2 separate regions of the Homo sapiens genome follow, and region 1 is linked to region 2. Evidence: fine-mapped expression QTL. Tissue or cell type: cerebellum. Region 2 holds a variant in brackets; the other region holds the start of a gene. All regions are shown on one strand. Distances are from middle to middle.

Region 1 (8,000 bases), 21 kb before region 2:
CTGGCACAGCACCCCACAGTTTGACCCACCATTCTGGAAGGTATAAGCTGCAAACCTTGGTGGCATGCATGTAGTGCTGACTCTGCAGACATGCAGAATGTACAAGCTGTGGGGCCATGGTGGCCTCCACCTAGATTTCAAAGGATGACTTGGACCGGCTAGGGGCTCAGGCAGACACTTGTCACAGAGGTGAGGCATGGGAGCCGGGGAGCCCCGATCCCCCAGAACTGTAGGGTCACTAGTGTGCAACTCCAACCTGGGAAAGCTGCAGGCATGAGACTCCAACCTCTGAGAGCTGCTGGGTGGACTGATCCCAGCAAAGCCATAGGGGAGGGGCTGCCTGAGGTCTTGAGGGGTCCAAGCCCCACTCCAGTGTGCCCAGATCGCAGGACAGGGAGTCAGAGGAGATTATTCACCAGTTTTAAGACTTAATGTTTTTTTTCCATTGATATAGTTTGGGTATTTGTCCCCTCCAAATCTCATGTTGAAGTGTAATCTCCAATGTTGGAGGCGAGGCCTAGTGGGAGGTGTTTGAATCATGGGGGTGGATCCCTAATGAATGGCTTAGTGCCATCCCCTTGGTGACCAATGAGTTCACTTGCGATCTGGTTATTTAAAAGTATAGGGCACCTCCCTGCTTTTTCTCTTGCTCGCACTCTCACCATGTGAGACATTTGCTCTCCCTTGTCCTTCCAACGTGATTGGAAACTTGCTGAGGCCCTCACCAGAAGCAGATGCTAGCACCATGTTTCTTGCACTGTCTGCAGAACCATGAGTGAATTAAATTTCTTTTCTTTTCTTTTTTTGAGACCGGTCTCACTGTGTTGCTCAGGCTGGAGCACAGTGGCAAGATCATAGCTCACTGCAGCCTCCATCACCCAGGCTCAAGTGATCCTCCTGCCTCAGCCTCCTGAGTAACAGGGACTACAGGCACACACCATCACACCCAGCTAATTTTTTTTTTTTTTTTTTTTTTTAGTAGAGATGAGGTCTCACTATATTGCCCAGGATGGTCTTAAACTCCTGAGCTCAAGCAATCCTCCTGCCTCAGCCTCCCAAAGTGCTGGGATTACAGGCGTGAGCCACCACACCGGCCTGTCTTTTCTTTATAAATTACCCAGCCTCGGGTATTTATTTGTGGCAATGCAAAAACAGCCTAACACATGCATGTTGGGTTCTAGATGTAGCTGGAACCAGTTACCCCTTTCTTCCTGCCTCTCTCTCCCTTTTGGAATGAAAATATCTCTCCTATGCCTGCCCCACCATTGTCTTTTGGGAGTAGATAGCCTGTTTTGATTTCACAGGTTCACAGCTGGAAAGGAGTCTGCCTCAGGCCAGCTATGCCTGCCTTGGAGTCTTAGCTTTATCTGATTTAGATGGGACTCTGGATTTGAACTTTTCAGTTGGTGCTGGAAGAGTTAAGCCTTTGGGGACTATTGGGATGGAATGAATGTATTTCACATGTGAGAAAGGCATGAATTTGGGGGGCTAAGACAGAATGCTATGGTTTGAATGTGTCCCCTAAAGTCCATGTGTTGGAAACTTAATCCCCAATGAAACAGTGTTGAAAGATGGGAGGGACTTTTAAGAGGTGAGGAGGTATGATGGCTTTGCCCTCATGAATGGATTAATGCTGTGATCTCTAGAGTGGGTTAGTTATCTTGAGAGTGGGTTCCTGAAAAAACAATGAGTTTGAACCCCTTCCTCTCTCTCCACCCCCACCTCTCTCTCTTTTCTTTCCCTATCTTCTCATTCTTTTGCCCCTCCACCTCTGCCATGGGAAGACACAGCAAGAAAACCCTCGCCAGATGCGAGCATCTTGATATCAGACTTCCCAGCCTCTAGAATTCTGAAAAATAAATTTCTTTTCTTTATCAGTTACCCAGTCTATGGTATTCTGTTATAGCAACACAAATGGACTAAGACAACTAATTTTCAGTTTTCAAATGCGCATCCCATCAAGTCCTTAAGTTTTATACAGTCCACATTTAATTTCTGCTGCAACAAGACTGTCTGATGAGTAGCAAAAACTGAAGGACAGTGTTCAATGTTAAGGCCATGCAGACTAATATAGATAACCTGAACAGAAAAAGAGATATTTTACACAGTGATGAGATGGTTTCATTTTTGCACACATGAGCAAATGCAACACATTCTCTGTGACAACTTTGGTTTGAAAGTTCTATCCTGCACCAGTCCTAGAACAATTTCCACTGGTCCAGGATGTCAATGCTCAGACACAGTACTGCATGGAATCAGGTGCAGGATTGAGAACAGGGCATGCTTTAGAAAAAGCAAAAGCTATTTCCAGGACTATCTGCTATGCTGGTTCAGCTTTGCCAAGCAATATTCAAATACTCATGGAGCAGCACATACTATGAGCAAAGTACTTAGTATTGTAGAAATGCAAAAGAAGAAGAAGAGGAAGAAAAGCTTAAACTGTTTATAATCCCCAAAGAAGTTTACAATCTGCTTAGAAAAATTATTTTACTATGCAAACAGCTGAGCCTGGCTGAAGCATCTGTTTGGGAGAGGAATGGAGAGAAGACTGGGAAGTCCACAGTTAGATTGTGTGGGGCAGGACAGAGCACCCAAGATTTACCGCATAGGGCACATCTGGGCAGTGTGAGGATGTCTAACAAAAAAGCCTAGAGATGCTCGGCGCGGTGGCTCACGCCTGTAATCCCAGCACTTTGGGAGGCTGAGGCAGGTGGATCACCTGAGGTCAGGAGCTCCAGACCAGCCTGGCCAACATGGTGAAACCCAGCTCTACTAAAAATACAAAACCTAGCCAGGCATGGTGGTGCGGGCCTGTAATCCCAGCGACTCGGGAAGCTGAGGCAGGAGAATCACTTGAACCCGGGAGGCAGAGGTTGCAATGAGCTGAGATCACACCACCACACTCCAGCCTGGGCAACAGAGCCAGACTTAGTCAAAATAAATAAATAAATAAATAAATAAATAAATAAATAAATAAATTTAAAAAGCCTAGAGATTTCTGTGTCTCTCCACTCTCCAAGTTCAAGGCCATTTCAGGGGCCTCCCCAAAGTTTTTAAAACTTGACTTGGGCAAATTCTTTAAGAACCTTGTTCTCCTCAAATAAAATATTTTGGAAAGCGGATTTTTATGAAGTCTTGGCTCAAATTCCATGACCTTTAACAGACATCTTAATTGTTTCGTGGGAGAATATGACCCAACAAGTGGCATATGGTTTAGGTGGGGACGTTTAATTACCGAACAGTTTTGTAGAATAAGCAAGTCACACATCTTTTGTCCGATGCGTGACAGGTTTGAACCTGTAAAGCCAGGTGCCTAAATAGCTTCCAACGTTTCCACCCCACCAGCCCTTGCACCACTCCCTGTACTGGCCCTGAGCTTTCTAGTCTTGACTGAAAAGCGGGGAGGCAATGTGGTCTCTCCTGGTGCACTGTCCCGAGGAAGGCCTGCTCCGCTTCCCCGGAGGAGTCTTCAAAGGATGGAGGTAATTAATAAAAACAACCCCTGTACCTCCTCTAAGTGGTCATTAATTAATAAAGAACCTCCAGGCTCCTATAGGAGAGGTCTGTGCACCCCGCGGGCTATGAGAAGGCTGGATCACCCAGAAAGACTGAGGATGTGTCCTGGCAAAAACACAGCCTGCCCCTCACACTGCTCCCCACGGGTGCACTAGGGAGGAAGAGTTCCCTCGAGGGCCTGAGCAGGCGCCCCACACCTGCACCCGTGCAGAGGGGGCTGGGCCCGCCCTCTGCGCTCCCGAGGGAGAGCCCTACCCCCTGCATCCCCGGTACCCCGTTCCCTCCAAGGGCCGGAAAGAGGGCCCCGCGCACTGTGCACTTCTTAGGGGTCCCCCACCCTGCGCCCCCGCCACGGGAAAAAGGTCCCCGCTCTGCGCATCCGGCCCCGGAGGGACAGCCCCGGTCCTGCACTCCTTGCTCCTCAGGGGGACGGTCCGCGCCCAGCGGCTAGTGCGCCCCGGGTAGGTGGGGGCGGGGGGCTCGTCGAGTGACAGCGCTCGCCTCCCGCAGCCCGCCCGAGCCGCGTCAGGGCAGAGGCGGGGTGGGGCGCGGTTAAAAGGCGCAGCAGGTGGGAGCCGGGGCCTTCACCCGAAACCCGACGAGAGCCCGACAGCCGGCGGCGCCCGAGCCCGACCTGCCTGCCCAGCCGGAGCGAAGGGCGCCGCCCCGCGCAGAGCCCGCGCCAGGGCCGCCGGCCGCAGAGCAGGTAAGCGGGCGCGGACCGGCTGGGTCTTGCGGGGGGCGAGCGGGCGGTGCCACCTCGGCCCCCCAGCGGAGGAATTTCCTCCAAGAAAACAAAACAGGTGAGGTCGGCGGCTGGTCCCCACCTCGCCCCTGTCGCTCCTGTCTGGCACCGGATCAGAGCCGGCAGAGCGCGGCCGGGATGGGTGTCTGGCCGCACGTGGGGCGACCGGGCCCCCGATCTGCCTCTATCCGCACCCTCCTGTCCACGCGCCCCGGCCCCGGCCCGATGGCAGTGGGCGCCGCCCGCGCTGGACCCTCTCTCTGTACGCAGAGGAACGAGGATGGACTGGTTTGACTTTTACCCCAGCGTGGTCCCCTTTGACTTGTACAACAGGTTTTATGAAGGTTTCATATCGTGTGTCTAAGAGGCCAGAGTGAGGGCCGGTGCCCCTTTCCCCCGTTTCATTTGCTGCGTGTTGGATTTTCTAAGCTTTTGTGGGTCACCGGGGTGTCCCCTTGGATTTGGGGAGAAGAAAGCCAGGTCTAGGATGCGGGTTTCAGTTCAGACAAACCCTCAACTTGGGCCGATGCATAAGTCCCCGGAGAACCGCAGGGTATGGGCTGCGTGATGGGCTTCCGAGAAACTTGTGAAATGCTGATGACAATAGCGTGGACGACAGTAATTAAAAGTAATTGGCGACACATCTTAGTTAAAACGTGCAGGCACCAGAAGGCACTTCCTGTCGGTGAAGAAGACCTGTCTCCGGTGTCACGGGCATCCTGTGTTTTGCAAACGGGGCTGACCTCCCTTCCTGGGGAGCAGGAAGGGTCAGGGTGAGTGTGGCCTGCCCGCAGCTCTGCACTCCCGGAGGGGTTAGGGACCTGCAACCAGGCGGGGACACTGGCCCAGCGACCTCAGTGTCCCCTGGGTGGGCGTGCACTCTGTTTAGTGTCTGATTGAACGTAACCGTGCCGGGTTGTTCTTTTCCCTCAAGTAGACTTTATGCCATACAGCTATTTTCTTGCCCCAGTTCTAGCAGAATCTAACCAGTGTTCTAGAAGAAAATGTCCTGCCCCCATGCAGTCTCCTTAGAATTGCAGGGTGCTGCTCAGAACTGCTCCTGTGGAGAGCTTTGTCTGTTGTTTGGATCCAGCAGCGTCTTTGGGGGTGTTGCTTGAAGCTTGCCAAGGAGGAGAGGGGGGTTCTGAAGAGAGAACACCAGGGCTCTAGCCTGTCACATAACTGGGGGTGTGGAGAGCGCCTCATTGCCACTGCAGTGACTAAAGCTGGGAAGACGCTGGTCAGTTCACCTGCCCCACTGGTTGTTTTTTAAACAAATTCTGATACAGGTAATGATGACTTTATGCTTTTTTTCTTATGTCTTCTCTTCTGAATTCTGAGTGTTAGGAAGGAAAAGAAGTACAGAAGATCTGGCTAAACAATTTCTGTATGGCGAAAGAAAAATTCTAACTTGTACGCCCTCTTCATGCATCTTTAATTCAATTTGAATATTCCAGGTGCTGTGAGCAGTTTGCATATATTAGTTTAAATGTTAAATGGGATAAAATTGTGGGAAAGTGATTTCTGACCCAAGCTTCTTGGTCTGTGAGGGCATAACCTTCTAATGGCCACCTGCCATAGGTTATGATTTCTGTTTTAGTTGCTTAGTGCATGAGCATAGACCTGGAACCCCAGAGGGCCTGCTCCATTTTTATTCCCAGGGTCATTTAAATCTAGTTGAGCTTAAATGTTTGGAAAGGACACAGGTTTGCTTGAATGAACAAACATATATTGCTAACAAGACCCAGAGAAGGAAAGTTTAACTTAATGGAAATTAATTTTTAACTCTTTGAATTCTTAAATGATGTAAGAAACATACGTAATTGCATGAGTTTTCCATTTTTACATCTAGACTCCACAGACAGAAACGTTTCATTTTTATTGAGTTAATTTTGAAATATATGAATCCCTGACCCATTGTTATCACTAGCTGTTACTCTATCAGGACAGTTGCTGAAGTTTTTTGTCACTAAATTTAAAAATCAACTATCAGGTTGTCCCTTGGATGACCTGAGATTTCTAGAGACAAAAGAAATCTATTCTTCCTGATTGAAGAAAGAGTCTGAGATTTTTTTTAAACCACTGATTTGGGGATCAGGGTGTAGCCAGTGTCTCAAACTCTCCCCTGTCCCTTTTTGTTTTGCTCAAGGAGTGGGCTTGAGGCCTCAGATTGGGTGTTACTGTTATTTTGATAGGGAAAGGATCCTACTAAAGAGCACCTTTGATTATTTTGTGTGTTCAAAGCATAGAGCATCAGGAAGCTGGCAATTTCTGAACTTACCTCATAACAGTTCTGGGAATGAAGAAAAACTACCCACAAAGTTTATTCAGGGGACATATTGCGGGGGGCGGGGGGGGGGGGAGTTAAAGGAATATGGCAACAGCTACTATTTTTCCCTCAACAGGCGACATCCTCACTGACCGAGCAAAGATTGACATTCGTATCATCACTGTGCACCATTGGCTTCTAGGCACTCCAGTGGGGTAGGAGAAGGAGGTCTGAAACCCTCGCAGAGGGATCTTGCCCTCATTCTTTGGGTCTGAAACACTGGCAGTCGTTGGAAACAGGACTCAGGTTTGCTTGTTTTGCTTTGATATTGTTTTCCTTTTATCTATGCAGACTCCCCGACTATCCAAAGCTAACTTCGAAATTGGGAGGCACATGTTCCTGTTCTCAGATCTATCAACTACTCCCTAGATGGCCAGGCGCGATGGCTCATGCCTGTAATCCCAACACTTTGGGAGGCCGAGGCTGAGGTCAGGAGTTCAAGACCAGCCTGACCAAGGTGGCAAAACCCTGTCACTACTAAAAAAAAAAAAAAAAAAAAAAAAAAAAAAATTAACCAGGTATGGTGGCATATGCCTGTAGTCCCAGCTATTCAGGAGGCTGAAGCACAAGAATCACTAGAACCGGGGAGGCAGATGTTGCAGTGAGCTGAGATTGCACCATTGCACTCCACCCTGGGCAACAGGGCAAGACTCTGTCTAAAAAAAAAAAAAAAAATTTTTTTTTTTTTTTTTTTTTTTTTTTGCTAAATGACATTGAAAGGGGAACAGAGCTATCTAGAAAAATATGCTGAGGGGTTACACTCTAACTTTGGGGGCTTTAGTTTTGGTTCTGTCATTAGTGAAATTATAATGGCATAGATAAATAAGCTAGTTGTGATTAATTTCCTAAGAAGTTTTAAAACAATCAAGAAATTTCATTAGTGCAGTCAAATGCCAATAGATCTAAATTATTTGAATTGTAAAAGGAAAGAACAACCTATCTTCACAATGCTGTGTGGATCCTCAAAAGTAAAGTCCATGGTTTACTTATTTTTAGAGCTAGATATTTCAGACTGGAGCTTTAGTATCAAGAATATAGCATGGGCCGGGCGCGGTGGCTCATGCTTGTAATCCCAGCACTTTGGGAGGCCAAGGGGGGCGGATCATGAGGTCAGGAGATCGAGACCATCCTGGCTAACACGGTGAAACCCCGTCTCTACTAAAAATACAAAAAATTAGCCGGGCTTGGTGGCAGGCGCCTGTAGTCCCAGCTGCTCAGAGAGGCTGAGGCGGGAGAACGGCGTGAACCCGGGAGGCGGAGCTTGCAGTGAGCCGAGATCGTGCCACGGTACTCCAGCTTGGGCAACAGAGCTAGACTCCATCTCAAAAAAAACAAAAAACAAAAACAAAAAACAAAAACAAACAAACAAGAAAAAACAGCATCGAGTTCTTCACTATGATTACATTTACT
Region 2 (8,000 bases):
TTCTGTTTTCAGGATAATTGATTTCTGCTCTTATCTTTATTATTTTCTTCCTTTTTGCTTTTGGTTTATTTTGCTCTTCTTTTTCTAGGTTCTTCGAGTAGGAACTTAGATCTCAGTCTTTTCTTCTTTCCTGCAGTATGCATTCAGTGATATACATTTCCCTATCAGCACTCCTTTAGCTATGCTAACAAATTTTGATATGTTTTATTTTTAAATTTCATTTGGTACAATGTATTTAGAAGTGTGTTTTAGTTTCCAAGTGTTTGGAAATTTTCCTATTATCTTTCTGCTATTTATTTCTAGTTTGATTTTATTATGGCCAGAGAACACACTATTATTTTATTCTTTGAAATGTATTGAGGTTTGTTTTATGGCTTATGTATTAAGCATGTCTTTTTACTCTTCTGTTTTGATATCAGAATAATGTTCGTGGCCTTACTAACCTTGGGGAGACTGTCCCTCCCAGAGCCAGCTAATTCCTAGAGATGGCAAATAACTCCCTGTGAGTGCACCAATCATATGCAAACCAACCATTCCAAACCTAGACCCTAACCACCCCCTTCATCAGTCGCTCACAGAGATTTCACATTCTAGGCCACTGTCTACCTGCCCCAATCAGTCCAGGGCCAGATATCAGACCAATGGGGATAGCCCCTATGCCTCAGAGCCCCCTGAAAGTTTCACACTAGCCAATCCCAAGTCTGCTAAGCCTGTTTACTCTGCCTTGCCTTTCCCAGAGTAACCACATTAATGGCTCTTGCCCACATTTCCCCCTGACACCCTCTGCCTCCTGACTGACTCTGGTACTTTTCCATGTGGCTCTGCAAGGTGTGTTTGCCCCCTATTTCTAGAGCACTCTAAGTAAAAACCTCTTCCTTCATGACAGTCATTTCCATGCCTGCATTTCTTATCACACCTGATTAAAACAGGTGTGATATTTTTAAATAAAATGTGGCCTATCTTGGTACACATTTGTTGGACTAGAAAAGAATGTATATTTCAGTGTTGTTGGGTGAAGTGCTTGGCAAATCCCAACTAGAGCCTTTTGGTTGATGGTGTCATTGAGTTCTTTTATGTCCTTGCTGGTTTTCTGCCTAGTTTTTCTATCAGTTATTGAGAGAGGGTGTTCAAGTATTCATCTATATTTGTGGATATGTCTATTTCTCCTTTCAGTTTCATCAGTTTTTGCATCACTTATTTTTCAGCTTTGTTATTTGGTGCATACACATTCAGGATTGCTATGCCTTCTTAGTGAATTAACACTTTTAGCATTATATGACGTCTGTCTCTGGCTCATAATTTTCTTTGCTCTGAAGTTTACATGGTATACCTTTTTCCATCCTTTTGCTTTTGACCTGCCTATATCCTTAAATTTGAATTGAGTTTCTTATAGACAGCACATAGTTCAGTAATGTGTTTTAGTCCATTTTGTTAATCTGTCTTTTAATGGATGTATTTAGACCAATTATATTTAATGTAATTGTTGATGTTTTAAGGCTTAGATCTGCCATTTATTTTTTGTTTTCTGTTTGTTATGTCTGTTTTTTATTTCCGTTTTCTTTCCCTCGTCCCTTTCTGTAGTTTGCTTAAATGTTTTTTAGAGTTCTATTTTTATGTATCTATTATTTTTGTGTGTATCTTTCTGTAACATTTTTAGTGGTTGCCCTAGGTATTATATTGTATTTACACAACTTATCACAGCCTCCTAATGTTGTCACTTTACCAATTTGAGTGACATAGAGAAACCTTATTTCCCATTATGTCCCTTAACCCTCCTCCATTTATAATTGTCTTAGATATTTCCTCTACATATATTTAGAACCACATCAGTCAGTGTTGTAATTTTTCTTTCAACTGCTAAATATAATTTAGAAAACACAAGAGAAGAAGGAAAATCTATTGTATTTACCCATACTGTTGCTTAACATGTTCTTTCTGATGTTCTAAGATTCCTTCTTTTATCATTTCCTTTCTGAATATAGAACTTCTGTTGGCTATTCTTTTATGATTGGTCTCTTGGTGATAAATTTTTTGCTTTCTTTTATTTGAGAAAGTTTTTATTACCTCCTCACTCATGAAGGATATTTATGCCTGGAATAGAATTTTGAGTTGACCTGAAAAATATTGTGCCACAGCCTCCATGATTTCTTGCGGTGGTGCAATCTCAGCTCACTGCAACCTCCACCTCCTGGGCTCAAGCAATCTTCCCACCTCAGCCTTCTGAGTAGCTTGGATTACAGGTGCACACCACCACCACTGGCTAATTTTTTTTTTCTTTTTTTTTTGTATTTTTAGTAGAGCCCTGATTTCGCCTGTTGGCCAGGCTGATCTCAAACTCCTGGCCTCAAGCAATCTGCCTGCCTCAGCCTCCCAAAGTGCTGGGATTACAGGCATCAGCCACCACACCCAGCCTGGCCTCCATAATTTCTAAGGAGAAATTTGAATGGTTTTTCCCTATAGGCAATGTTTTTCTCTGGCTACTTTTAAGATTGTTCCTTTGTCTTCAGTTTTCCGAAATTTAATTATGATGTGTCTCGGCATGATTTCTTTGGGTTTATTTTGTTTAGGGTTCACTTCTTGAATTTGTGGATATAGATCTCTTACAAAATTTGGAAAGTTTTCAGCCATTATTTTTTCAAGTCCTTTTTTAGTCCTGCCCTCTTTCTCTTCAACTTCTGGGATTCTGATGGCTCAAATGTCAAGGCTTTTGTTGTAATAACTCAGGTACCCAGAATTCTGCTCATTTTTTTTTCAGTCTCTATTCTCTCTGTTGTTTAGATTGAGTAGTTTCTATTGTTTTGGTCCACTAATTCTTTCTATTTTTAGTTTTTGTATTTTTATTTTAGTTATTGTATTTTACGGTTCTAGAATTTCCATTTGGTTCTTCTCTATATCATCTATTTCTTCACTGACATTTTCTATTTCTGTTTCAAACATGTTTGTATTTGTTCATTGAAGCCTTTTTATCATGACTGCCTTAGACCTTTGTCAGATTATTCTAACATCCCTGCCATCTTCGTATTGTTTTGATTATTCAGGTTGAGGTCTTGGTTCTTGGTATGACAAGGGATTTTCAGTTGAAACCTGGACAGTCTGGCCAGGCGTGGTGGCTCACACCTGTAATCCCAGAACTTTGGGAGGCTGAGGCGGGTGGATTGCCTGAAGTCAGGAGTTTGAGACCAGCCTGGCCAACATGGTGAAACCCCATCTCTACTAAAAAAAATACAAAACATCAGTGGGTTGTGGTCATGGGCACCTGTAATCCCAGCGACTCGATAGGCTGAGGCAGGAGAATTGCTTGAACCCAGGAGGCGGAGGTTGCAGTGAGTCGAGATTGTACCACTGTACTCCAGCCTGGGCAACAACAGCAAAACTCTGCCTCAAAAAACAACAACAACAACAAAAACCTGGACACTCTGGGTGTTATGTCATAAGACTGGATCTCCTTTAAAATCTCTGTTTTAACTGGCTTTCTCTGTCACCCCTCCAGAAGGGAATGGGTGCCACCTCATGCTGTCAGGTGGAGGTAGAAGTCCAGCTTTTCCATTTGACCTCCATTGACACCCAAGGTGAGGAGAGGCTCCTTGTGGGGCAGGGTTGGCAGTTCCAGCTCTCAGTGTAATCTCCACCAACACCATGGTGGGGGTGGCCTCATTTCTAGTAGGCACTGATGAAAGTCCTGACTCTCCACTAGACCTTCTTTGACACCACCTGGGGGAGGGGCAGTGGTGCCTCATTACTGCTAGGTGGGATGGGGTCCAGATTCCCAATATGGCCGCCACTAACATCATGTGGCAGGAGGGTCTTGTTACCTGCTGGGACAAAAGTCCAAGCTCCCTACTTTGCTTTTTCTGACACTGTCCCAGTGGGGATGTTGGGGCACCCTATTACAGCCTTGCTAGGGCAGAAGCCTGAGCAACCTGTTTGGCCTTTGCTGGCATGGGTGAGTGGTAGCAGGGACACAGTTTTTTCTGCGATATTTGGCTGAAGTAGACTGGTTATTGTCTAAAAAAAATTTTTTTTTTTTTGAGATTCAGTCTTGCTCTGTCGCCAGGCTGGAGTGCAATGGCAC[G/A]ATCTTGGCTCACTGCAACCTCTGCCTCCTGGGTTCCAGCAATTCTCCTGTCTCAGCCTCCTGAAAAGCTGGGACTACAGGCGTGTGCCACCACGCCTGGCTAATTTTTTGTATTTTAGTAGAGACGGGGTTTCACCGTGTTGGCCAGGATGGTCTTGATCTCCTGACCTAGTGATCCGCCCGCCTCGGCCTCCCAAAGTGCTGGGATTACAGGCGTGAGCCAGCGCGCCCGGCCTAAAATTTTTATGTCTTGCTAGGCTTCCCCTTTACTGACCCTTAGACTGGAGACAGAAGGCTTTTCCTGGCTTGTCTTTGAGTTTGTTTTGTTTTTGTTGACACCCATCTGTGTTTTGGGCCACTGTCTTCCCAACCCCTCCAACCACAGTCCAGCCTTAGTTTTCCAGTTAATCTCTCAGTCTGTGAGAGAGTGATGGGGAGTCTCCATGCTCTCCATTTTCAACCTTCCCGAGGGCACTTGCTGTTTCTCAAGGGTCATTTTCTTATCCCCACCTCTGGGCATTACACAAGCTCTCTTCTACCCGGAATGGCCTGCCTGCCTGTCCCTTCCTCCACCCTGTCCTTCTAGACCAGCTCAAAGTCTTCTTCTTGAGGATTCTCCTGCCTCCCTCCAGGCAGCATCATCTCTCCCGACCCTCCTCCCCAGGGTGCTCTGAGAGTGTTTCTGCTTTGCTAAGTTCTCTCTGCTTCTCTACTAGGGCAGGGGCTCCTGAACAGAGAAGAGCTGATCTCATTCCCTTTGCTCCTGCCTCAACATGATTCTTCACATACTGAGTACCAATAAGTGGATGTTGAACTAATCAGCATCTGAAATACCAATCCTTTTTCTCCTGACTTTGTGGCATGGCTGTTGGGAGGGGAAGAAGGCTCATTGGCTTCCTTACTGTGAGGGACCTGCCAGTAGTTTTCTGAAGCCCTGTGAATAACCTCCCTATGCGCCAGAACTGCTGTTGCCATGGTTTCTCCCACCCATGAGGAGTACTTAGGTGAATGCTGATGGAAGAACAGAGCAGGCTGGCCAAGGCCTTTTCAGGCCATTTTAATAGGGAAAAAGTTGGTGAAGTAACAGAAGGCCTTGAAACCATTCAGATGGCAGAGTGCAGTGGGAAAATCTCACCAAGATGAGGAATTAAATTAACTGTGAAACTACAGCCAAGAATCTCTTTAAAGATAATATTACAGACAGCAGAGACTCTATCATTAATCAGCCTCAGAAATGTGAAGGTGCTTGTCAACCTAAATTATTTCTAGGTATAATTGATTTCTAGCTTTTTCCTAACCAAACTTTTAAGTTTATAGATTCAGGATTAATGTGGTATTTTAAATTGTGGTTAGCAGTAAGCTGTAAATAATTATTTCTTTGTATACCATTTACTTTTATTCATCTCTTATTAACTTAGACATTAGTTCTCTATTTGAAATATATTAATACAACATGAAACAGTCTCTTCCCAATGGTAGCCAGTATCTATTCAACTCTTCAATGTTCACTGAAGAGAAGGCATAAATCCAGAGGGGAATTGACTGTTTCTGGCTGAACTTCAGCTCAAAGAGAGACCTGTGAGTGGTCTTCTAGATTCTGCTCATGAAGGGGTATGCCTGGCACTTGTCAAAAATTACTATTTAAGTTCAGAATTAATATCAGAGAGAGACTCTTGGCTGAAAGTGTGACACAGGCTCTAACCTCCTTAAAAGAGGTGTGGGATTTGAAATTTAACACTGTGTGTTTCCTCCCCATACACCACATTTCTACGTGCTGAAGACAGACACCCTTCAGTTGGAGCTAATGTCAATGGGCTCAAGATCTTAAGTTTCCCCAGAAGTATGTTCGTCAAAATAGGGCTGTCCTAATCAGTTCAGGCCGCTATAAGAGAATACCATAGACTGGGTGGCTTATAAACCACAGAAATTTATTTTTCACCATTCTGGAGGCTGAAAGTCCAAAATCAGACATCACCAGATTTGATGTCTGGTGAGGACTGCCTCCTAGTTCACAGACACGGCCTTCTCACCGTGCCCTCCTGTGGCTGAAGGGGCAAGGGGGCTCTCTGGGATCTCTTTCATAAGGGCACTAATTCTATTCCCCTTCACCTCCGCAAGACCCCACCTCCTAATTGGGGGTTAGGATTTCAACACAGGAATTTCAGGGAGGATACAAACATTCAATCCATAACAAGTGCTAAGTCCAGCTATAAGATCATAAGAACCAAATAAGTACAGACTATAGCCCATGGCTTCCCAAATTTACTGGATCAGAACTTCTGGTCCCACAACCCAGAAATCTGTATTTTTATTTTTTATTTTTTATTTTTTTTAGACGGAGTCTCGCTCTGTCACCCAGGCTGGAGTGCAGTGGGACAATCTTGGCTCACTGCAAGCTCTGCCTCCCGGGTTCACACCATTCTCCTGCCTCAGCCTCCCAAGCAGCTGGGACTACAGGCGCCCGCCACCACACCCGGCTAATTTTTTGTATTTTTAGCAGAGACGGGATTTCACCGCATTAGCCAGGATGGTCTCGATCTCCTGACCTCGTTATCCACCCGCCTCGGCCTCCCAAAGTGCTGGGATTACAGGCGTGAGCCACCACGCCTGGCCAGAAATCTGTATTTTTAATAAACTTAGGAGTTGATTTATTTTTTATTTTTATTTATTTTATTTTTATTTTTATTTATTTATTTTATTTTATTTTATTTTTTGAGACAGAGTTTCACTCTTGCTCCCCAGGCTGGAGTGCAATGGCACAACCTTGGCTCATCACAACTTCCACCTCCTGGGTTCAAGCGATTCTCCTGCCTCAGCCTCCAGAGTACCTGGGATTACAGGCGCCCAACACCACGCCCGGCTAATTTTTTATATTTTTAGTAGAGACGGGGTTTCACCATCTTGGCCAGGCTGGTCTCGAACTCCTGACCTCTGGTGATCCACCTGCCTTGGATTCCCAAAGTGCTGGGATTACAGACGTGAGCCACCACGCCCAGCCAGGGGTTGATTTTTAATCAACCAGGCTTAGTCCAGGTTGCAAGGAGCAGCAAAATGGTCCCATTTCAGTGTGCCTAAGAATTACCCGGTGGGGTTGCTTAAAATGTCCATCCCAGCACCCACCTTCAGAAGGTCGAATTCAGTCAGCCCGGGATGGGCTCCAGAATCTGCATTTTGATAAGTCCCTCAGGTCATCCTCATCTCATGCTGGTCTTCAGAAACGCTCCCAGACACATGCCATTTCGAGCGGCCCGTAGAAATAGCTGTGCCTCTCTGAAACAGTTCCACTCTGGACCTGCGGCTGTGAAATGTGGGCTGCATTCAGTCATTGGTGTGTAATCACTATAGACAGACCCTTTTCAGCCCTATGGACTGAAAACATGAGTTTGTTTTTCAGCAACCTGTTCCACGCGGGGATGGGGTTGGAGGGGTCAGGCAGTCCCCGCCCTGGGAGGGCCACCGTGTCACCAGCTGCTGCCCTCCCTGCCTGCCCTGCGCATCTCCCCAGCGAGGACTTCTCCAGCCTCCATCTCTAGGCATTGGATGGGCCCTTAGATATCCAGCCGTAAGAGATCGAAAGAACGATAAGTCGTTCTTTCTTTTTTTTTTGGAACAAAGATTTTCTAGGAAATTTAATCTTTTTTTTTCTTTTTTCTTTTTTTTATTATTATTATACTTTAAGTTTTAGGGTACATGTGCACAATGTGCAGGTTTGTTACATATGTATACATGTGCCATGCTGGTGTGCTGCACCCATTAACTCGTCATTTAGCATTAGGTATATCTCCTAATGCTATTCCTCCCCCCTCCCCGCACCCCACAACAGTCCTCAGAGTGTGATGTTCCCCTTCCTATGTCCATGTGTTCTCATTGTTCAATTCCCATCTATGAGTGAGAACATGCGGTGTTTGGCTTTTTTGTCCTTGTGATA

Direction of the effects. Positions count from the first base shown, and alleles are read on the strand shown. Sizes are in standard deviations (SD) of each study's normalised expression.
With allele A in place of G in region 2, the expression in cerebellum of the gene that starts at base 4,097 in region 1 is higher (large effect, 0.85 SD a copy in GTEx).

Evidence for each region.
Region 1: it holds the start of GJB6, and the variant in region 2 is fine-mapped to the expression of GJB6 in cerebellum (GTEx, PIP 0.97).

The regions. Positions count from the first base shown.
Region 1 is chr13:20,228,416-20,236,415 of GRCh38, reverse strand. GJB6 (gap junction protein beta 6) reads left to right here and starts at 4,097. Exons shown (of 5, transcript NM_001110219.3): 1 at 4,097-4,222; 2 at 4,911-5,034; 3 at 5,609-5,718; 4 at 6,667-6,836.
Region 2 is chr13:20,207,183-20,215,182 of GRCh38, reverse strand. No RefSeq gene overlaps it. Among named protein-coding and RNA genes, the nearest start is that of GJB2, 18 kb to the right of the region's middle. The variant G/A (reference allele first, on the strand shown) is at 4,073.